Linked DNA regions of Homo sapiens. The protein of the gene in region 3 interacts with the protein of the main gene of each other region in a pairwise test. Each region holds a gene or a part of one and is shown on either strand. Other genes may lie near its edges.

Region 1 (7,000 bases), on a different chromosome or scaffold from region 3:
ATTCTTTCTTTTCCTATAGGAAGAGGAAGACAGAGCTCTTACGAGGGGGAGGCAGAGACGGCACAGCAAGGGACATGCCCCCAGAATGCCACCAATGTCCCAGGACAGGCCCACCCATGGGACCAGGTTATCAGGGACCCTGTGGGGATGGGGTGGAATCTGGGGGGGTGAGCCTTCTTCCCCAGGCTGGGAGTGGGTGAGACGAGACTGAGGCCTCTACATTTGAATGCCCCCCAAACCCAGCAGTCATGTTGTGAGCAAACAAAGAAATCACGTTACTTCTTCCAACTGATCCGTAATTTCTTGGTTCTGTTGTTTCTGTGGGGAAGAGTCAAAGGAAGGTGACTGAGGGTGGCCCCCTCAACTCTATTCCCCAGACCAGGAACGGGTAGGCAGGGGCCAGGAATGGATTTTAAAGGCAAAGTTCTCAGACCCAATGGGAACACGAACTGGTAAACTCTCCTCAGGCTCTCAAGGAAAGGGGATTTGTGTCTTTGTTGGTTTTTGCCCACAGCCACAGAACTGAAAGTCTGAATCTCGATTCTCTTGAAAGGACAGTAACATAAACCTCTAGAGATGGAGTGTGAGAAAAGCCCACCCTCTGCCAGTTTGTGATTTAGAAAGGTGTAATCATTCAACAAACATTTGCTGAGCACACACAGGCCAGGTACGGTTCTTAATAGCAGGGATACCAGACAGAAAAAGACAGACAGGAGCCCTTGGCCCTGAGGTTTACATTCTAATGGGCCTTTAAATCTTGGACTCTCAGAGCTAAGAGACCTTTGATACTCTCTAACTCTACCTCCTCAGGAAATGCAAGCCCAAGGAGGAGAGGTGGCTTGTCCCAAATCAAAGAGCAAATTAAGGACTGAGTCAGGGCAGAAATACAGGGCTCCTGACAACCAGTCAGGCTAGCGCTTCCCCAAGAGGCAACAACCCCAGGGCGTGTGTGGCAAGGACTCGAGCAGGGGTGTCTAGAGAAGAGAGAGTAGGCAAAGAGGGCAGCAACAGAAGAGCCATGCTGCATGCTCCGTGCTCTGGGGTCCCTCCAGCTGAGGCCTGGGCCCCCCAGCTCCCCATTCGCCCTTGGCACCAGGGGCCCCCTGCCCCTTTCTTCAGGGTCCCAAGGGGAAACTGGAGCCCAGGATTAGCAGCATGGAATCAGGGGACCCCACTGGACTCTTACCAATTTCTCTATCGTGATATTGAGTTGTTTGTTTGTTACATAGCTGGAGTCCAGGGCTACCGCTAGCTGTTGGTACCGGCTCTGAGGCGCATGCAGAGAGGAGGAGTTGGAGGAGGATTGGGGGGAGAGGTAGAGAGAGCAATCATTAGGGTTGGGGGGTGTGTGGGCTGTCTCAGCTGGCAGAGGGGCACCCAGCCCCCGCTGTGGGAGGAGGTTGGAGGGCTGGCCTGCAGGGTCACTGGGCCACGGCCCAGGGCCTCTTACCTCCAGATCCTTCAGGTTAGCAGACGATGCAGGGCCCTCCCCATTGACACATGTCGCAGACTATAAGAGACGAGAGTGCACATGGAGATGTTCTGTCCCCTCAGTGTCTAAGCCCTCTAACTTCGTTTCTTCCCCAGCAATTGGCAACATTTTCTTTTCTAACTTGGACCCTCTGTCCCGTAACCCCTTTGTGCCAACTTCTCTCATGGTTCTTATTTCCCCACCATCCTTTCCTCCCGAGCAGCTCTCATCCAGTGCTTCTGCAGCAGGATACAATGATGCAACCAGTCATGGGGTCCAACTCCTTCATGTGCACAACTTCAAGGGAGAAGGCTCAGGGAAAAGGCGACTTCCTTAACATTGCCCAGCACATTGGCTGGTCCCAGGATCTTCCCTCTCTCTTGTGAATCCCTGCTTCAGTTTCTATCATAGTTCCCTTCCCCCCACCCCGCTCTCGGCCTCAGTTCCTGAGGTACCTCACAAACAAGACCATTGAGCTGTTGGGAGAGTTGTCGCAGGCTCTCGGTTGATGAGAAAGTCCTAGGGATGGAGACACAGGGGTCAGGGGTGCAGGTGGCTCAATGGGAAAGAAGGTCATGGGCAGTGGCCTCCCTGACTCTCTCAGCCTAGAGACTGCTGCCCCAACAGGAGACACTCACTTGGTTTCATCCATGAGATTAGGGACATTGTCAGCATCATGATTCTGTTTGGGAAGAAACGTGTGAGATGGTCATTCAATTTCTGGTAAGAATCACCCAGGATGGGGTGAGTCAAGCTCCCAAACTCATTCTAACAATCTTCAATCTCCCCAGGCCTCAAGGAAAAAAGCCCAGTCTGAGCCTTCCCCCGGCCCGGTCCCCAGGAAGGGCCCTTGACCCTAGGGAACAAGCTGCCTGTGAAAGGAGAAGATAATGCATAATAGGTACAGGAGGGCAGTGGGCAGAGGGGGAGGAGGCACGAACCTGAGATGCCGCCATGCTAGTGAGACTGGCACCAGGGGAAGGGACACCGCCAGGTAACACGGTGTCATCAGATGGTTGTAGAGTAGCAGCATTGTCCTTGGGTGTCTGTCACAGAACAGAGCAGGGGGTTAGGGGGCCATGCGGGAGAGGTGCCTCAGTACTATGAACACAAGGGTGTGGAACAGGTAGGACAGGTGTTGCTGCAGTCAGAGTGACAGTCACACATGCTAGGAGCCACTCAGGGGTGTGGATTGGTTGCCCAGGCCTTGGGCTGCTAGGCAGCATTTCAGATGGCCAAAGCTCAAAGCAGGGGCTGCACGGCCTCCTTCATGAACACGAGGACCTCGCTCTCCCTGGAGCTCAGCAAAAGACAGCAGCAGGCTCTGACCTGTGGCAGCCACAGCAGGCAGGAGGAAGGTGTGCCAAAGTCAGGGAGGAGAAAGGCACTGTTCTTCCAGAAGGCCAGTCTGTGCTGCAGAGTGACCCTCACTGGGCCCCTACTGGGCAGAGGATGGTGATGAGGAAGTAGTTGTCTGGGCAATGCACAATGTAGCTATCTGCCTGTCTCCTCCTTTCCTCCCTTCCCTTCTCCCCTGCAGTGGCACAATCATAGTTCACTGCAGCTTCCACCTCCTGGGCTCAAGCAATGCTCCCACCTCAGCCTCCCTAGTAGCTGAGATTATAGGTGCACACTACCATGCTCAGCTAATTTCTATAGAAACATGGTCTTGCCATCTTGCCCAGGCTGGTCTCAAAGTCCTGGGCTCAAGTGATCCACCTTGGTCTCCCAAAATGTTGAGATTACAGGTGTGAGCCATTGCACTTGGCCTACTGGCTGTGTTTCTGATTCAGGCCTTTTCAGGGGGAAAAAAAAAAAGCTGCCCAACTAGAAGACTCTCTCCAACTCTCTGGAGGTAAAAAGAGGATAAACCATGGCCAACACCCCCACCCCGACCTCTTACCTCCAAAAACATCTACCCAGCCAAGAAACCACCCAAGAAAACAGAGGTAAGACATCTTCCCTGTGGCTCTTGGCAACTTGGAAGTTGTAGGGCCTCTTTCCTGGGAATAGTACCTGAGGACAATCCTAGGATTCAGAACTTGGGGTCATGTGGAGCCTCTCCCTTGCCCCCAACTGGACCTACCTGCTTGATCAGAGCCCCACCCAGCCTCTCTCCAGGCTCTGACCTTACTCTTCGCCCAAGCCTCTGGTTCTAGAGATCTTCTAATATCTGACAAGCCAGATGGGCAGACAGTGGAAAAAGCTGGCTGACCAGCTAAGCTGGACAAGAGAAAAACACCAGGGAGCCAGGGCCTGGCCACGGAAGCTGGGTCTGGGAGAAGTGACTACACCTCTCTCCAGGGAAAGGACTGCGCGCTCACTGGACCCTTCAGCCCTGGCTTCTGAAAACCCAAATCTGCTTCCCTCCTTAGAGCAAGTGCTGCAGAGGCTGGTGGAACTGAAGATGAGCCAAGCTGCCTTTGCATCTTTGCAAGTTTACTGTGACCATGGAACCTGGTGTTTCCTTGACAATGCCTACAACTGAATCTAATAGGTCAGAGCAAGGGTTCAGTTGCTGGCCAGGCATTAGCCTTGAGGGAAGGCTGGCACTCCTAGCAATGGACCCTGCTAGGCTTTAGGGCCCTCCTGGCATCTTCGGTTCCCACTGATCTCTAGGATTAGACACAAGAATGCTCAGAGGAAGGGAATTTTTTTTTTTTTTTTTTTTTGAGATGGGAGTCTCACTCTGTCGCCCAGGCTGGAGTGTAGTGGCGAGATCTCCACTCACTGCAACCTCCGCCTCCTGAGTTCGAGATTCTCCTGCTTCAGCCTCCCAAGCAGCTGGGATTATAGGTGCACGCTACCACGCCCAGCTAATTTTTGTATTTTTAGTAGAGATGGGGTTTCACCATGTTGGCCAGGCTGCTCTCGAACTCCTGACCTCAGGTGATCCACCCTCCTCAGTCTCCCAAAGTGCTGGGATTACAGGCATGAGCTACTGCACTTGGCTGAAAAAGCATTTTTCTGAGGACTTTCTGACACACATAGCATGATTATTTTGTGAGCAACCAAGTTATTTCATTATTTTAAGTCTTGTAGCCAAGATGGAGTTTTTAAAAAAGCCTACTCTCCTCAAAATGTCCCATCCCATTAAGATATTTTTTCTCTCTCCATTATTCCCTACTTCTGGAAATGTTATCAGCTCCGCTCAGGATACTACGATCACAGGCCTGCATTCCTGGAGTAGAAAACTTACATGGTAATAAAAATGAGAAATTAAAAAAAAACAAAACCTACATTGGAAACAGTTACGGATATAGAGAAGGTATAAAAACAGCAAGGGGCTGGGCATGGTGGCTCACACATGTAATCTCAGCACTTTGGGAGGCCAAGGCAGGTGAATCACTTGAGGCCAGGAGTTCGAAACCAGCCTGAGCAACATGGCAAGACCCCATCTCTATTAAAAATACAAAAAAAATGGCCGGGCGTGATGGTGCAACATCTGTAATCCCAGCTACTTGGGAGGCTGAGGCATGAAAATCACTTGAACCCGGGAGGGGGAGGTTGCAGTGAGCCAAGATCACACCACTGCACTCCAGGAGAAAGAGCAAGACTCTTTCTCAAAAACAAAAACAAAACAGCAAGAAGGAAATACGGGGATCTAGGCCTTTGTTTCCAGAATAGAGGGACCTGGGCTGGCACAGAATCTCAGAGCATTAGGAAACAGGCTGAAGACCCCCTAATCCACTGGACCATTGGCAGAGCAAAAGCCAAATGCTTTTGGCTGCAGGTCACCTCTAAGCCTGTGCTCCCCAGCCGTACCACTCAGCGTCTCCTCTGAGCTGGCAAGGTGAGTCACAGCACCTGGACAGACCTGATCAACTGGAGGGTAACAGGTATGAGACTGGACAACTCTCTAACAGCAGCCAAGGCTGCTCTGTCTCAGTCCCTCTCCCCATACCCATCTCCAACAGGATCAGGCTCTATTCGTGCCCTGCTCCTCTGGCTTGGCAGGAAGGAGTCCCCCAGGTGAGTTAGAGATGGAAGAAATGCCAAATCACAGCCAGAGGAGGTTGTCTCCCAGCCCTGTGTACCTCCATGCCCTGCCCCCCACCAGGCTCCCTGTGTTCCTGAAAGGTGCTCTGTGAGTTCACACTCTGGCCACGGCCTCACCGCTCCCCCTGCCTCCCCCACTCCCCATATGGATTAATGTTACCCACCTTTAATCTTCAAGCCAGCTTCAAATGCCACCTTCTCCAGCCTGGAGTCCATTTGGAACCAACCTCCCCCCGAGCTGAGCATTTGGAATGTTCCAAAATTCTCTCTTGCCTCCTTCAGAGGAGTCTGCCTCCCTCGGTGTGCAGCCTACCTTGTTCATCTATTTTATCCACTGTTTATTTATCAAAGTGCCTTTGTTGTCAAGAGCCCAATGAATATGGCTAAATGTCCATTTGGAGAGATTAGGGGCAGAACGTCTTGGTCACTCATCTGTTTGGTTAACCTCACAACTTTTACAGTTAGTTCCTCTGAAAAAATAGCTTCAATCCTTCCAACTATAATGTGAACTCATTTTCTTTTAACCCTTTGTTCCCTACTCTTAAACCAAAGTGAATTAATTTAAAAAAAAAAAAAAAACACTAACTTCTAGGTGGTTTACTGATCTTTGCCTTTAGGGTAAAACCTAAAGGTCTGTTGGTTTTTTTGTGTTTTTTTTTTTTCATCTCTCCTAGTCTGAGAGTACCCACACTGGGCATTCAAAAGCCCAAATCCCAGAATCCCAGACTGGGAGCAGTGGCTCACGCCTGTAATCCCAGCACTTTGGGAGGCCAAGGTGGGTGGACCACTTGAGGTCAGGAGTTCAAGACCAGCCTGGCCAACATGGTGAAACCCCATCTCTACTAAAAATACAAAAATGAGCCAGACATGGTGGCAGGCACCTGTAATCCCAGCTACTCAGGAGGCTGAGGCAGGAGAAACACTTGAACCCAGGAGGCAGAGGTTGCAGTGAGCCAAGATTGTGCCACTGCACTCCAGCCTGGGCAGTGAGACTCCGTCTCTGAAAAAAAAAGAAGAAAAAAAAAAGCCCCAAATCCCACACACCTGCTCTAAAAGTTATTCCCAAATTACCTTTAAACTTTTAAACTTTAAGATATGTCTCACCTTCTCCAAGATGATAAAAGATTTGGGGGAAGAATAAAAACCCAATCAATCAAGCAGGTGAAGAAGCGGACATAAACAGGCGGAAGGTTAATGGCAGCAACATAAAATAAGCCAGAGGCAAAGTATCCCCCAAACCAGAGAAGCCTCAGGGGCATGCACAGCTGGAGAGAGCAAGCCAGAGAGGGGTCTCGGCACTGCCTCACCTTCCACTTGTCCAATGGGGGGAGCGCTACCCCATTGGAACGGTTAAGGTCGGACACCAGCACCTTCAGAATGTCCTGAATCTACAGGAGGCGAAAAGGGAAAAACAAGGGCAGGGGGAGAAAGGTAGAAGTGGCTTAGAGAGAGGCAAGAAAGTCAGGGAAGGAGGAAGATGTGGGTTCAGGGAAATGAAATAAGAAGAGTGGAGGAGATCAATACCATGGC
Region 2 (6,850 bases), on a different chromosome or scaffold from region 3:
CCCGTAGCTTGGAGTGCAGGCTGAGAACAGGGGGAGAGGAGCAGCCACTCCACATGCTGAGAGGCTGGACCAGCTCCTAGCAGGAGAGCTGGTTACAAACACAAGGGCCTGGCCTCACGGGTTCGGGGCTCAAAGGACCCATCCTACCTGCAATCACACCTGGGGACCCCTGCCTCCAGGGCATCCACCCTGCTTGGAGTCAGCAGAGTCACCCAGCAAGTGTAAACCGGTTGAAGAGCTTAAGAGGATGAGGTGGCAGGGCGGGCCCCGGGAAGGAGGGGATTAGGGATCAAGCAGGAGCCCAGCCCTCCCCGCACATGAACCTGAGCACCCCAGCTTCTCTCCAGCTGGGCAGGGGCTCCATCCAGAGCAGCTGGAACCCCAGGTTCTAAGCCCAGCTCTGCCTCAGACTAGCTGTGTAATCCTGGCAACATCTTGTCCCTCTGTGGGCCTCTGTTTTCCCATTTGTACAACTGAAGTGTTGAGGTTGCCTGCCTGTCTTCAGTCCCCTCTAGCTGAGGACACTGCCTGGGGGAGCTTTGCGGCCTGACAGCTTTCAGGGCCCAACCCCTCTTTCTCCCCCTCTAGCCTGGTAACTCTTTTTGTTTTCTGTATTTTTTGTAGAGACGGGGTCTCACCATATCGCTCAGGCTGGTCTTGAACTCCTGAGCTCAAGCGGTCTTCTCTCCTTGGCCTCCCAAAATGCTGGGATTACAGGCGTGAGCCACTGTGCCCACCTCCTAGCCTGGGAACTCTGGGGCTAGATCACCTTGCTTGAGTTCTCTTCCCAGCCCTGGAGATCAGAATGGGGCCTCCCCTGGAGCTGAGGAGTGCTGCTGGCCAGTTCTTTCCCAGCAGCCACCTGCCGTGCTACCCATCTCATTGCTTAGATGCAGCCTCCCAGAGACGCTGCCTCCACGGCCTGCTTGTGAGCTATGGCTTCTCCAGCACAGGGCTCACCACCTGCTACTCCCTGCCTCTACCTTTCAGCCTCTTGCCTGCCCAGACAGCCCAGCCTGGCCCCACCCTGAAGCCCCTACCTCTCACTTAGAGCCTTGCTGAGGGCCTGCTTGTTGGTGGGAAGAGACTGTCCAGTCCCCTGGAGGTGGCACTGCTGCCTAAGCTGGAGGGACTTCAGGAGAACTCTGCCAGAGCCAGGGGGTGGGAGCTGGCCTGTCTTGGAGCTGCGGATGGGTGGAAAAGTGCAAGAGATGTGAATAGGAAAGGATAGGGCCAAGCTCAGGCCAGGTAGGGACAGAGCCCAGCCTGGAGGCAGGCAGCAGCCACCACAGCCTTGGCCTAGAACTTGAGGGAGGTCTAAGGGAAGGTTCATGAAGGAGATAATGTTACTGCTGAGAGAAAGTGGAGGCCACCTGGTGTCCCTGGGGAGGAAATGTCATTCCAAACAAAGGGAGCATCTTGTGCAGCGTCCTGGTGGTATTTGAGCACTTGGTCTATCTGGGTACATGTCATTTGGGCATGTCTGGTGCTTGAAGAGGCTGAAGAAGCCAGCAGGTGCCTGAAGCCTGGCTGAGGTGACTAGAGGTGCCCTGGCAGGCGTGGAAGTGGAAGACTGTTGGGGCAATGGACAGGTGGGCAGGGCAGGGCAGGGCAGTTACCATTCAAGTCAAACCCGTTTGCAGGCAAGATCAGCTGCAGGGCCTGGCAGCCTGGCAGGGAGGGAGGGGTTCAGGGAAGGCTGATCTCTTTGGCTGGAGCAGTCGTGACAGATCGGGCCTGGGCAGAGACTGAGTCACCTGGGACATGGGAAGAGCTTGAGGCCCTGGGGCGGCCCAGCCTGGGGCAGTCCTCACTTGCTGGCCGTGCCGTTGGACACCACATTTGCTCATGCTCTCCAGCTGGGCCCCCCACCCCTGACTCAGGGCTCTTGAACAAGTTTGCCTTTTCCCTCTTCCTTGCCCTACATCTCACCCATCATGATGTCTTCTACCTTCTACCCTTTCAAACTAGGGGCTCTTGAAGAGGACTGGGACCCAGACAAAGAGTATGACACAGCCTAAGTCATACAGTAAACATGTTTAGGAGGTAAGATGCCAAGCCAAATCCATGGCCACCAGTAGCCACAGTGGAGGAGGGGAGGTGTTAGTTGCTGGCCACCAGACAGGGGCATACAATATTGGAAGCAGAAAAATGCTTGTTGGCAAGAGACGGACATGAACAGAAGTGACTTTATATACAACCCCCTAAGCACACACAGGGTCGCCTTCTCCCTATCTCATGAACCCCAAGAAGAAAAGGATGAGGACAGCTTCCACAGCCTCACTCACCCATCCATCACTTCCTTCTGCAAATTCTTCGGATGCCCTGTGCTGGTCTCCGTGACCCAGTGATGAATCAGAAGGGGCCCTGCCCTCCCAGAGCTCAGGATCTAGAACAATAGAGGGTGACAGCCACTATGCTGGATTGATGTCATCTGAGGGAACTAAGGGGTGCACAGAAGGAAGTGATCAGCTCGACTGGGTGGCAGGCAGGGGAGGCTTTCCGGACACTGGGTGGAGGCTTGAAGAATGACTAAGAGCTCACTAGCCCGACGGGGATGAAGAGCATTTTAGGGAGTCCGAGGAGCAGGAGCAAACACCCCAAGGTGAGCGCCATGTGATGTATTCAGAAGGCAATGGAAAAAGGCCAGTGTGGCTGTAATGTATTGAACAAAGGGAAGAGTGGCTGGACCTGCAGGGATAGGTCGTCTCAAGGAGTCTGGCTTTTACCCTGAGAGCAATGGGAAGCCATGGAGGAGTTGCAAGCAGGAGAGCACCTGATCATATTGACACACGTGAACTTTTAACCTGACCTCCGTGTAGAGACTGAGGGAAAGGAAGGCAAGACCAGAGGCAGGGGGACACCAGCAAGGAGGCTGGTCTTCGGGGCCAGGTCTGGACTAGGGTGGTGGCAGCAGGCACAGGGAGAAGTGGGTGGACTGGAGGGCCATGGAAACACCACATTGGCAGGCCTTGATGAAGGAGAAGCAGCTGGTCCATTCTTTTGAGCCTACCACCCTGGTAGGCCAACTCCTGGCCAAGTCCATGCCATTTCTTGGGCTGGCTTAATTGTCTCCCTGTTTGGGAGGCCGTGGGGTGAGGGGTCTTTCCTCCATGCTCTCTCCATCCTTAGCCCCAGCCCAGGGCCTTGCACACAATAAAGCACTCGGTGAGCACCAACGCGTGACACAGGTACATCAAACCGCATTGGCTCTGGGAGTCTGGCTGTATCTCGTCGCCCAGCCTGGGAGATAGCCCCGTTTGCTGTGCCTTGTGAGCCCCGGGTCCGTCCCAGGATGGCCTTCCACGATGAGCGGCTCCCTCACTCTTCTCCTCCTTTCCTGCCTGCAGGACTTCCTGGATGATCTCAGCCGCCAGCCCCCCGCCCCCCTCCCCGCCCCTGTCTGGGATCTCCATCTGTAAAATGGATCTAGGAACGGTAGTTCTCGACTGAATTAACCCGACAGCATCTGTGGAAGTCGTTGGCCCTGTGCCGGGGCCAGATCGCGCAACTAGGAGCGGGGGCCCTTCACGTGGCGGAGGCTTCCCGGCCTGGGGGCCACGGGCCCGGAGGAATTTGCCTGGAAGTTTTCCATCACGGCAGAGCCTTCTGGAGCTCGCCCCGTGCTCGACAAGGGGAGCCCCAGACTTGATTTCTCCAGCAGCCCCGCGGGGCGGGGCCGAGAAGGGGCGGGCGGGCGGAGGACGCTGGCGGGAGAATGTGCGGAATGTGCCAGGCGCCTCTACCTACCCCAGGAGGGGCAGAGGAAGGGGCCGGCCGAGGGGAGGGGCGAGGGGCGAGGCTCCGGGCGGCCGGAGAAAACCTGTTTGTTCTCCTGCGGGCGGAGCCCAGTCCGCGCCTCCTCGCCTCCCTGCGCGCTCCCCGCTGTGCACCGCGCCCCGCGCCCCGCGCCTGCCTCCCCGGCCCGGCCCGGCCCGGCCGGGCGCCGTCCACCCGAGGGAGCCCGCGCCCTGCGACTGCCCGACCCTCCACCCGCCCCACGAGCCGGGCACCGGTGCCAGGTAGGGCTGTCGAGTCGCCATTGGATGCGGCCCTGCTTGGAGGCAGTGGGGGGCACCCAGTCCGTGCCCAGCTGGGGACAAGTCAGGGCCTCAGTTTCCCCATCCATAACCCTTACCAGCTCCAAGCATCTCTCTTCGGGTTCCCCCCGGGAGTCAGTGGATTTCTGGTTTTCGCTGTGAGTGAAAAGACTGACAGGCAGAGGAGGCCAGCGTCCCCTACAGAGGCAAGTGTCCCCCTTGCCAGCCTGATCCCTCTGTCTTGCCCTTTAGGAAAGACACGGTTTAATTGTTAGTAAACGGCGAGGGGCCAGGATGCTCTGAGAGTTGACTGCAGGCCTTTAAGAATCAGGGAATCTCATATCCCTCCGTCCCCCTGTGCCCATTTTATAGATGAGGAAACTGAGACCCAGAGGCTGGCTCACCCAGAGGATCCCCTCAATCGCCCTGGGGCCTGTGAGGTGCATGTGCTGGGTACAGGGCAATCTTGGGGAGGGCCATGAGGATGGTGGCTGCTCACACTCAGACAGAAGGCGCCGAATCAGGTGTCACTGGGTGTTATCGACAGGATCGGCACTGCACCAGCTCTGTGGCTGGATTGTTTTGATGGGGGCAGAGGGAGCCAAGAGTCTGTCCTCTTTGGAAAGGCAGAGGGATACCTTGCCTTACAAAAAGGCCGAAAGCTCAGGTGCTCCTGCCTGATCTGCCACTTCTGAGCTGGGGACACCTGGGTACTCTGTCGGTTTAAGGGGGTGACACGTCAAGCTGCCTCCCACCCAGGGCTGCTGGGGACTCAGATAAAGTAGGTGGTGGGTGTGTCCCGGCTTTGGGACATCTGAGGCATGGTAGGAGTTGTGTTCTTGCTGAGCCGTCGGCACGAAGCCTTGGCATCATGGGAGGCCCCAAAGCTGTGAGCCCCGAGAGAGGGCCTCTCACACCCCATCCAGCAGTGCTTGAGGCTTCAGTACCTGGACTAAGTCCTGCCTTGGTCTCATGGCCCTTCAGACTTCTGGCTGTCGTACCTGGCTGGGGGCGGGAGGCAGGGGTGCACAGGTTGATAGGCCTGAACAGAGCTGCAGAGGTCCTGCCTTCCCAGGGCCTCCGCTCCTCATCTGAAAAACAAGGGGCAGCTCAGAGGCCAGCAAGTGGCCAAGACACAGATGCACAGATGAGGGGCCAGCCTTCTGGCAGGCCTTGGTGCCTCCGCTGTTCCCCTCATCGCTCCCAGGCCACTTCAGGATGGGAAGGAACAGATCCCTCTCACCTGCCCCTCCTTCCAGCAATTCCCAGCCCCTGGCTGGATGCTGTGCATTCAGCCGTGTGGAGCTGATGGAAGGCACTCAGTGCAGGGCCAGACACGCAGCAGGTGCTCAAGATCTGTTCATTTCCATCCTCTGGACACTCATGACTCAAGCAACAGAGGTGGCCCAGGACCACTTAGGATGTTGCAGCTCCGAGTAGCATGAAAACATTAGGGGTTCCTCAGTCCTGGAGCAGCGAGGCACCCCTGGCTGGGAAGATCAGGGAAGGCTTCCTGGAGGCGAAGGGCTTGGAAGCAGGAGGAGGAGCTCGGCAGCCACCAGGTCAAGGCCCGCACGTCCTTTGGAGCTGCTGGAGTCTAACCTCCCCGTTACTCCTGAAAGATCATAAACCACTTCTTGCTGAGCTCCTGCATATGGGGGCCCACAGAGAAATCAGCTCCATGCCTTGCCCTGAGGAGTGACAGAGAGGCCATCTGTCAGTAAGAAGTTGCCATCTGAATCCAAATGGCAGCAGTGCTTGTCCACCTCACTTCCTGCTCAGCTCAAGTCCAGACTCCAGAAAAAGCCTTTCCCACGTGAGGCCAGTGATGCCAGGGGCAGCCAGCGCCTCAGCTCAGCCTCCCTCAGCCTGACTTGTGCTCCTTGTCTTCCTGCCCAGTGTCCCCAAGGCCTCCTGAGATCTGGCAGGGCAGGGACTCTGGGTCCCTAGCACTGGGCCCAGGACCTGGCCACGATAGGCATCGGCACTTGTTCCCTGAACTGTCTTCAGTTGCATGCCAAGCAAACTCCCCCAATTCTGGCTCGGTGCATTCTGGAAGCCAGAAGCCTGCCTTCCTCCTTCCCTACTCAAGCTTCCACAGGTGACTGCCCCCTTTGGTGCGGGTTTTGCTTCAAGCCACAACTTATAAGGTGCCAGGTCACATGTAACACAAGCTTTCCTTCTGTTGCTGAGCCCTGAGGCTGCCCCCACTGCCAGTCCCTGGCGGCATGGGACAGGACCAGTGCCAGAGAGGAGAGCTGCTCTCCAGTGCGGCAACCCCTTGCAGTCCGGGCCTTTGGGCTCTCATGTTTAGGGTCAGTCCAGGGACTTTGCATTCGTTACCACTGTGCCCATAGTGAACCGGCTGATGCCAAGACAAGGGCAGTGCCATCAGGGGACCAGTCCCTGAGAGATGCTCAGGAGAGGTTGCCATCATTGCTTCCAAAGGCCGGGAAGAGGAGGAGGGGCTGAACTGTCCCACACCTGGTCAGGTGTGTGGCAGGTGAGGGTGGCACCTTCATAGCCTAGTGGTTAAGAGAATGGCTCAGAGGTCAGCCTGGGTTCAAACCCCAGCTCAGCCACCATCCAGTTGTGCAAAGTTCGGCCCTTCATGCAACCCCTTGAGGCCTCTGTTTTCTCACCAGTACTGAAGGGTGGCTAAAGCCAGGAGCACCTGCTGCACTGGGTGCCTGCAAGTGCTAGGTTCCTGGCACAGAGGTGCTCTGTCACGGAAGGTAGCTGAGCCAGGACTATGGTGCCCTCCTTCAGGGCTGTGGTGGCAAGGAGTGAAGTGGGACTAGGTGGAGAGA
Region 3 (8,028 bases):
AGTTCACTGCAACCTCTGCCTCCCAGGTTCAAGCAATTCTCCTGCCTCAGCCTCCCGGGTAGCTGGGATTACAGGCGTCAGCCACCTCGCTTGGCTAGTTTTTGTATTTTTAGTAGAGATAGGGTTTCATCACGTTGGCCAGGCTGGTCTCGAACTCCTGACATCAGGTGATCCACCCACCTCAGCCTCCGAAAGTGTCAGGATTATAGGCGTGAGCCACCTCGCCCGGCCGCCCAAACATTTTAAAGTTAGAATCTCTTTTTATAAGCAAAATTTTCCATAGAAGGTGACTATGTGCCACTTTCCTCTCCAAGCACCTGATCTGCTTCATTTCACAGAATCCTTAGAACAGCTCCACGAGTAGGTACTCTGAATACTCCCGCTTTACAGATGTGGAAGCTCAAATGCAGAGAGGTTGGGCAACATGCCCAAGGTCAATGAATGCAGAACTGCTGCAGTGGGAGCAGGGGTGGGTGACACCCACTAGGGAGGTGCTTTCAAACTCCTACTGCTCCAAGGAGCAAGCTAGAAAATCCCACTTCTCAGGCCCCTTCCACTAGGACACACTATGAGCTTAACACTGCTAAGAACTCACTGAGGAATGGTGACATTTGGGGGCGGCTCCTTCAGTGCTTTGTTTGGCTTCTTTTTTAAATTATAAATGGTGGTTTGAAAGTTGTTGGAGGGGAAAATCAGATGAAATCAGGGATGTGGCTGAAGCAGTCAGTGTAGCAGTGTAGCAGAGAAGCAGAGAAGCTGTCAGCAGCCTACCCAGGCCCCGAAATGGGCACAGCCCTGCATTTCTGGCCTGAGGCTTGCCGAGGTCTTAGGTGAACTTCAGCTCTTTCTACAGCACCCCAGTCTCAGCACTCTTTGGTGGATGTCCTGATTGGCTGGGAGATTGTTGCTTCCTGATACAGTGGTGATTACTTCTGAAAGATGGGGTAATACCAACAGCTATCGTTTCTGACCATTTACTGTGCAGCATCACTGTGCAAAGTATTTTTATACATATCCTATTGACTCCTCTCAAAACTCCTGTGAGGCAAGCAGGCACCCCAGTGGCCTCATCCTAGTTCTGGCCCTGGTGACATTATGATTGCCTCCATCCTCCATTTGATAGGTACAGAAACTGAGGTTCAGAGAAGTGAAGTAAATTCCCCCAGATCACGCAGCTAGCAAACAGCTGAGCTTCTATGCTCATCCTAAGGCTCGGTTGAAATGGATTTTTTAAAAGATGTATTTTGGGCTCTTTACTATATAGAAAACCGAATCTGTTTATCACTAAGGTTACTAATAGGCCTTACATCTGTGAAAACTTATCTGTCAGCTGGCCCTGAAATGTTCTGAAATGAGTCTGAGCACAGGATGCCTGTGACAACCGAATAGTTTAAAAAAATTCTCCATGGGAGCCGAAACCCTATTAAGACAGGTCTTTATTTTTGTTCCTGAATGCCACATTTAGAAACAAAATGTCATATTTTTGTATATGAATGTCACAAGTGACAAAGCATATGTTGCAACTTGGCTTCTAATGGTTGAAAAAAAAAGAGAGGTAAATTATCATAATGTTGGGATCTTCTCAATTATATTTGCATTTTCATTTCTATCAGAAGTCCATTTTAGCAAAGGAATGTAACCTTAGTCACTTGAAACTGCTGTTCCCTTAGAAAACAATTGTAAATGTAATAAGCAAAAAGGATAGAAAATGCCCACAGGGGAAAAAAATGATCCATCTGGGGTCAGAGCCATCGTGTAGATTGATTCATTCTTCTTCTAGCATTCTTATTCAGGAAGGAAAACTTGAACATTTTCTAGATTTTAGGATATTTAAGATTTGCAAGGAATTGGGGGAAAGGGAAAAGGAATGAAATTTCAGTCCCACTGGCAGGGATCAAATAGAGATTTTCTCAACTTTTAAAAGAACCGTTTTACATGTCCCAATCACCTCATAGTTCCTGAGTCTCTCTTCTGCATAAGGCATGTACTAGTTGTTAAGGGAGGATACAATAAGGTCATGATTGCTTTAAAATTATTCATAATAAAAACACATTTTGAGACTTGATTCTAAATGTTAAACTTAAATTTGAGCAATTTAATTGCCCGTTGAATAGGAATGAAATCCCACCGGTAGGCAGTTATTTCTTACAACCACTGTGTGTGAAATTGAAATCTTAAGATACCATTTCAAATATTCACCTTCTCTAAGGAAGTTCTCCCCAAAGAGTTGTGAAAGATAAGAAACTGACCCAAAGTCATATGCAGTAATCTCTTTTTCTTTACACACTCAGGTCAAAGTAGAAGCATATTATTAAAAAGAAACGTTATGCCCTGAATTTGGCTGTTCTGAGGTTACCTCTTGGAACCCAAGGATATATTTAATTTAAAAACTGACTTGAGCCCCATGCAAAACTGTGACAAGGAAAGTAATAATTTATCAGATTAAATAAAAACAAGCAGATGTGGCCAGGCGCGGTGGCTCATGCCTGCAATCCCAGCACTGTGGGAGGCTGAGGCAGATGGACCGCCTGAGGTCAGGAGTTTCAGACCAGCCTGGCCAACATGGTGAAACCCCGTCTCTACTAAAAATACAAAAAATTAGCTAGGCGTGGTGGCGAGCGCCTGTAATCCCAGCTACTCGGGAGGCTGAGGCAGGGAAAATCGCTTGAACCCAGGAGGCAGAGGTTGCAGTGAGCTGAGATCGCACCATTGCACTCCAGCCTGGGTATCAGAGCGAGACTCCATCTCAAAAAACAAACAAACAAACAAATAACACCCAAGCAGATGCAAACAGGTCATTTAGTCACCACGATAATGAACGTTAAAATGGAAAACACTTACATGTTTTATTTAGGAGAAGAAGGGGGTGAGGTGAAGGAATCCTGTTTCCTGCTTTTAAAAAACAGGAAATAGTTTCCAAATTTGGGTGGGCAATTCTTATTTTAAACCCCCATTTCACCTTTAAATTTAATTTCAAGCTCTTTTAAAATTATCTTAATGATGCCCTTTACTATAACATAGCAGCTGCCATTTATGAGTGCTTACTATATACCAGTTGCTTTTCATGCAAGCAACTTCATATCTGTTATTACCCCCATGCCATTACAAATCTATGTGCCACCCTTTTGTGCACTAACTCATATAATCCCCACAATAACTTAGGCAATAGGTTCTGTCGTCTCCATTTTACAGATGAGGATACTGGGAGTTTATTTGTTTGTTTGTTTATTTATTTTGAGACGGAGTCTCACTCTGTCACCCAGGCTGGAGTGCAATGGCGCGATCTCTGCTCACTGCAACCTCTGCCTCCTGGGTTCAAGTGATTCTCCTGCCTCAGCCTCCCGAGTAGCTGGGGTTACAGGCATGTGCCACCACACCTGGCTAATTTTTGTATTTTTAGTAGAGATGGGGTTTCACCATGTTGGGCAGGCTGGTCATGAACTCCTGACCTCAAGTGATCCACCCGCCTCGGCCTCTCAAAGTGCTGGGATCGCCTCGGCCTCTCAAAGTGCTGGGATTACAGGTGTGGGCCACCGAGCCCGGCCAGGATACTGGGAGTTTAAATTCCTGCTGTGAGCCCAGGTTGACACAGCTGGTCAAGGATGGGTTAGAATCCAGGTAGTCTGACTCCAGAGCTACTACCGCATACTGCCTCCTCAGATTAAATAATTTTCCTAGGACATGCTAACTGATAAGTAAGAGTCTAAATCAAACCCAGGCAGTTGGGTTCCAAAATTCCAGCGTTTAACCACCACATTGACTGGTTATAAGTAGGTAAACTGTTCATCACAACCTATATATTTATTTTCATTTCTGTTAGAAATGAAAGTAGTGTGGTAGGTTACATATTTATCACATAGTTTAGGCTTGCCTAAATTCTAAGTATTTTCTTTTTTAAATTAAAAACAAGGGTCTATCGGAAAAAAAAAAACCCAACTTTTTTTTTTTTTTTTTTTTTTGAGACAGGGTCTCACTCTGTTCCCCAGACTGGGGGGCAATGGTGCGATCATGGCTCACTGCAGCCTCAACCTCCTGGGCTCAAGCAATCCTCCCACCTCCGCCTCCCGAGTAGCTAGGATTTCAGGCAAGCACCACCACGCCCAGCTAATTATTTTTATTTTTTATTTTTTGTAGAAACGGGGTCTCACTGTGTTGCTCAGGCTAGCCTGGGTCTCCCAAAGTGCTGGGATCACAAGCATGAGCCACCGAGCACAGCCGAAAAAGTCTTTTTGTATACTGAAGTCTCCACTAGGACAAAAATTTGCTCTTAAGGCTTCCTTTGGGACACACACACACACACACACACACACACACACACACACACAGCTTTTGATTATACCCATTAGGGACCCAAGCCTTGGGACACAGGGACCAGAAAATGACAAGAGCATGCAGGCAGTAGTAAACTCTGGTTATCCTTAAAATGGGAACAGAAATGTATGCCTATGATCCAGACTGATCATATAAAACCATGGATCCTGAAAGTACGTTCCCTCTTTACAAGCCTTAATGACTGGCATCACGCACAAATAGGCCTTTCAGCTTCTGAACGCAGATATTTTCAAGGAACTCTGAGGCCCAGGAGAGCCTAAGTTTTTCTCCACGGAAGGGCAAACTACTAGCCTCCCCCGCTTCCCCTCTGCGTTCCTGCCTCTTTCTAGAAGGAGGCTGAGAGGGGGAAGCCTGAACCCCCAAATCAAGTCCGCCTTCTTTCTCTGTGCCTGACCCAGGGCAAAATAATCTCTCTGATCCTGTTCTTGACCATTGAAAAAGCACTTTCTCTGGTCGGGATACTACTGGCACTTTACATGGGGGGCAGTTTAACCGCAGGAGTCCGCTTTCTGAAAGGTGCAGAGGGAGGGGATTCCGCCACCAGCCGACTGAGAGGAGCCCCGGCCCCGCGTGGTCCCTCCCAGCCACCCTCCCTCTGGGATTAGCTGCCCTGGCTCTGCTCTAGGCGTCCCCAGCCCGTGCAGTCCCGGCTGGCGCACCACCATCGCCTCTGCAGAGCGCGGCCGCAGCCCGGAGCCCGCAGCCCGGAGCCCGCAGCCTGGGGCCCGCAGCCCGTAGCCCGCAGCCCGCAGAGCCGCGCTGTCCGGGGCATCCCAGTGCACGGCGTCCGTGGACCTGGGACCTCGAACCTGGGACGGGCGGAAAATCCACTGGGAACACTTGCATTTCTGTAGGTGCTTATTTCACATTCTTGTCTTTTCTTGCTTGCTCGAGCTGTTCGTGGGTTACTTTCTGCCTTAGTTAAACCAAAAGGGAAAGGCGGAAGAGGGGAAGCCCTGAAGAATGATTTAGTGGTTGCCCAGCCTCCTTTCCAAGGAGAGGTGTTCGCTGAGCGGCTCTCCCCGTCCCCGACACTGGCCCCTTTAAGAAGCCAAGTCAGTCCTGATGCTGCTGTTTGTATTGCTAATCCCCAGGAGCCCCGTTTAAAAAAAAAAAAAAAAAAAGGAAGAAAAAAGGGGAGGTGGGGGGACCGGGCAGCTGTCTCTTTAAATGTGATTTCCTTCTATTGTATTTGAATCGTGATCAGGAAAAAGGAAATGAAACCAGAGACAGAGGGAAGCTGAGCGAAAATAGACCTTCCCGAGAGAGGAGGAAGCCCGGAGAGAGACGCACGGTCCCCTCCCCGCCCCTAGGCCGCCGCCCCCTCTCTGCCCTCGGCGGCGAGCAGCGCGCCGCGACCCGGGCCGAAGGTGCGAGGGGCTCCGGGCGGCCGGGCGGGCGCACACCATCCCCGCGGGCGGCGCGGAGCCGGCGACAGCGCGCGAGAGGGACCGGGCGGTGGCGGCGGCGGGACCGGGATGGAAGGTTAAGTCCTGAGCAGCAGCAGCAGCTGCAGCCGCCTGGAGCCAGGCTGCGCGCCCCGGCCCCCGCCTCGGCCGCGGCGCGCCCGCAGCCCGGTGATTCGCTCTCTCTCTTTGGCGTTTGAAGGGAGCGCGGTGACTGTCCTTGAGCGCGGAGGGGCGAGCTCGCCGGCGGAGCGCCGGAGCAAGCGGAGGCGCAGGAGCGGCGGCGACGGCGGCGGCGGCGGCGGCGCCCGAGCACCCGAGGGGGTCCGAGCCCCGGCAGCCGGCCAGCCCCGCGCCACAAAGGGAGCGCCCCCGCCGCCCGGCACCCCGCCTCCCTCCCCAATGTCCTCGGCCATCGAAAGGAAGAGCCTGGACCCTTCAGAGTAAGTGCGGCCCCCCTGCCCCTGCCACCCCCGGTGTCCACGGCCTCGCGTCCCGGAGCGTCGGGGGGACCCGGGCGGCCCGCGAGGGGGCTCCAGGTGCGCGCTCGCGGCGTGCCCTTGGCCCCCTGTGCCGAGCGCTGGGCTCCTCCTTCCTCCCGGGTGATTCCGGGGGCTCTGGGAGAGGGACTGGGCGGCGGGCGGCAGGGACAGGGGTCGGCCCGGCGCCTCTGCGGGCCACTCCAGGCTACTGGGACGCTCCCCAAAGCCACCACGGGCCAGAAAGTTTGCACGGGAGCAGGCACGAGGAGAGCCTGGAGGCGCGCAGGTGCAGTCCGGAGAGCGTTCTGGGCTTGACTCTGCTCCCTTCTTCCCTCTCCTTCTCGGTCCTTTCTCTTTGTCCATTTGGTCTTGGAAAGGGGAACATTCCAAGTGGCGGCCTCCGGGGTCCCCAACGGCCGCCTTCCCGGTCCGCAGGTGGAGCCGCTGCCAGCCTTGCGGATAACGGGCGGGTGAGGGGTCCGACCGTCCACCTCGGAGCTGGCTCTGGGCCTCCAGGGATTTCTAGAGCAGCGAAATCCGGAGTAAATCTGAGTAGGTGTACCCCTCCTCGGGGTCCACCGATGGGGACATGTGAACCTCGAAAGTTAATGCACCATTTTGTGTATAGGTGAATTATTCTGGGGAGTAGAGTCTCGTAGTTTTTAGCAGAGTCTTAAAAGGGTTTGGGGTCAGGGAACCAGAGCTCTAATGAGCATTGGCCGCATCTGTTTTCTGAGCCGCGTACTGGTTTGGAATGTTTTTCTATCCCTCACCCATTCTTCAGCGTTAACATGGGGAGTAAGGGGTGTTTAAGATATCATTTTCCTGTCAACGCAAATGCCCTTTTAAGAGTCATTAGCTGTCTGGTTTTGAGAATTTTTATTCCTTTGAAGTCCCCCTCTAATCCTTTGAAGGGATTTGTTACACAAGACCAAAGGAGCTGGTTAATGACTTGTCCATTTGTGCTTTTAAGAGACATTTGTTTTGTTTTTTCTTTTCCTGCTTTAAAAGAATTGTGCTTTCCTGCTTGAAATACCGCACACACACACATACACCCTTCAATTTCGGCTTTCTATGGTGTTTATTTACCTGGGTTTTACCCTCAGTTACCAGCATAAAAGCTCAACATATTCTCATAAAACACAGGAAGTACCACCATCCAATGAGAATATAAACATCACTATTCAGTCTTGAAGGTTAAGACACCAGTTCTGTAATGAGCTAGGTTTGTTATAACAAAAACCCCCACTTCCTTCAACAAATTCTCAGGAGAAAAATAACATTCCTTTTTAAAAGTATGTTTATGCAAACAATGGGTTTAAAGGGTGGTTTGATCACTTTTTTAAAATAAACTTAAAACTGAGCTCTGAGTTTCAGAGACTGGGCAAGATCATAGTAACACAATAAGGGAGTGAATTGGATGAATTGGTGCCTCATGCCTTTTTGATCAGCAGAATTTAGTCACTAATCCTTTCAATAGAAGATTAATCTGAAGGTTTCATTTCCCTGAAGGAAGTTTGCTTCTTTCAAAGTTTGTGCTTTTTCACTGAGGTTAGAAACTGAAACATCCTAACTTCCTAATACAACAGATATCTACTGCTGGAGGCTCACCAGCTCCTTCCTTCACTTCACTATTTGCCCAACGAAGACAGATTCTGATCAAAGAGGGACAAGCCAGTTGAGAAATTGCTGCAGCACATTCTCCCCATGCCCTTAGAAATTGTTATGATTGTCCCAGAAATCCAGGCTTAAATGATACTCAGGTGTAATATTCAAGATAAGGGTCTGGGAGAATATAAAATATTAAT

Evidence for each region. Proteins that work in one complex are often made in the same cells at the same time.
Region 1: the proteins of LMO2 (region 3) and GOLGA2 interact in binary tests that used the Homo sapiens proteins (3 or more experiments, as listed by UniProt).
Region 2: the proteins of LMO2 (region 3) and ZNF185 interact in binary tests that used the Homo sapiens proteins (3 or more experiments, as listed by UniProt).

The regions. Positions count from the first base shown.
Region 1 is NC_000009.12:128,266,008-128,273,007, forward strand, and holds part of GOLGA2 (golgin subfamily A member 2), read right to left. Parts: intron 6,859-7,000; coding exon 6,778-6,858; intron 2,518-6,777; coding exon 2,413-2,517; intron 2,154-2,412; coding exon 2,110-2,153; intron 1,991-2,109; coding exon 1,927-1,990; intron 1,511-1,926; coding exon 1,451-1,510; intron 1,268-1,450; coding exon 1,187-1,267; intron 319-1,186; coding exon 280-318; intron 14-279; coding exon 1-13. UniProt on the Homo sapiens protein: Peripheral membrane component of the cis-Golgi stack that acts as a membrane skeleton that maintains the structure of the Golgi apparatus, and as a vesicle thether that facilitates vesicle fusion to the Golgi membrane.
Region 2 is NC_000023.11:152,894,217-152,901,066, forward strand, and holds the start of ZNF185 (zinc finger protein 185), read left to right. Parts: upstream 1-3,850; 5' UTR 3,851-4,022; intron 4,023-6,850. UniProt on the Homo sapiens protein: May be involved in the regulation of cellular proliferation and/or differentiation.
Region 3 is NC_000011.10:33,867,499-33,875,526, reverse strand, and holds part of LMO2 (rhombotin-2), read left to right. Parts: intron 1-5,539; 5' UTR 5,540-5,810; coding exon 5,811-5,817; exon of another isoform or gene 5,818-5,940; coding exon 5,941-6,181; intron 6,182-8,028. UniProt on the Homo sapiens protein: Acts with TAL1/SCL to regulate red blood cell development. Also acts with LDB1 to maintain erythroid precursors in an immature state.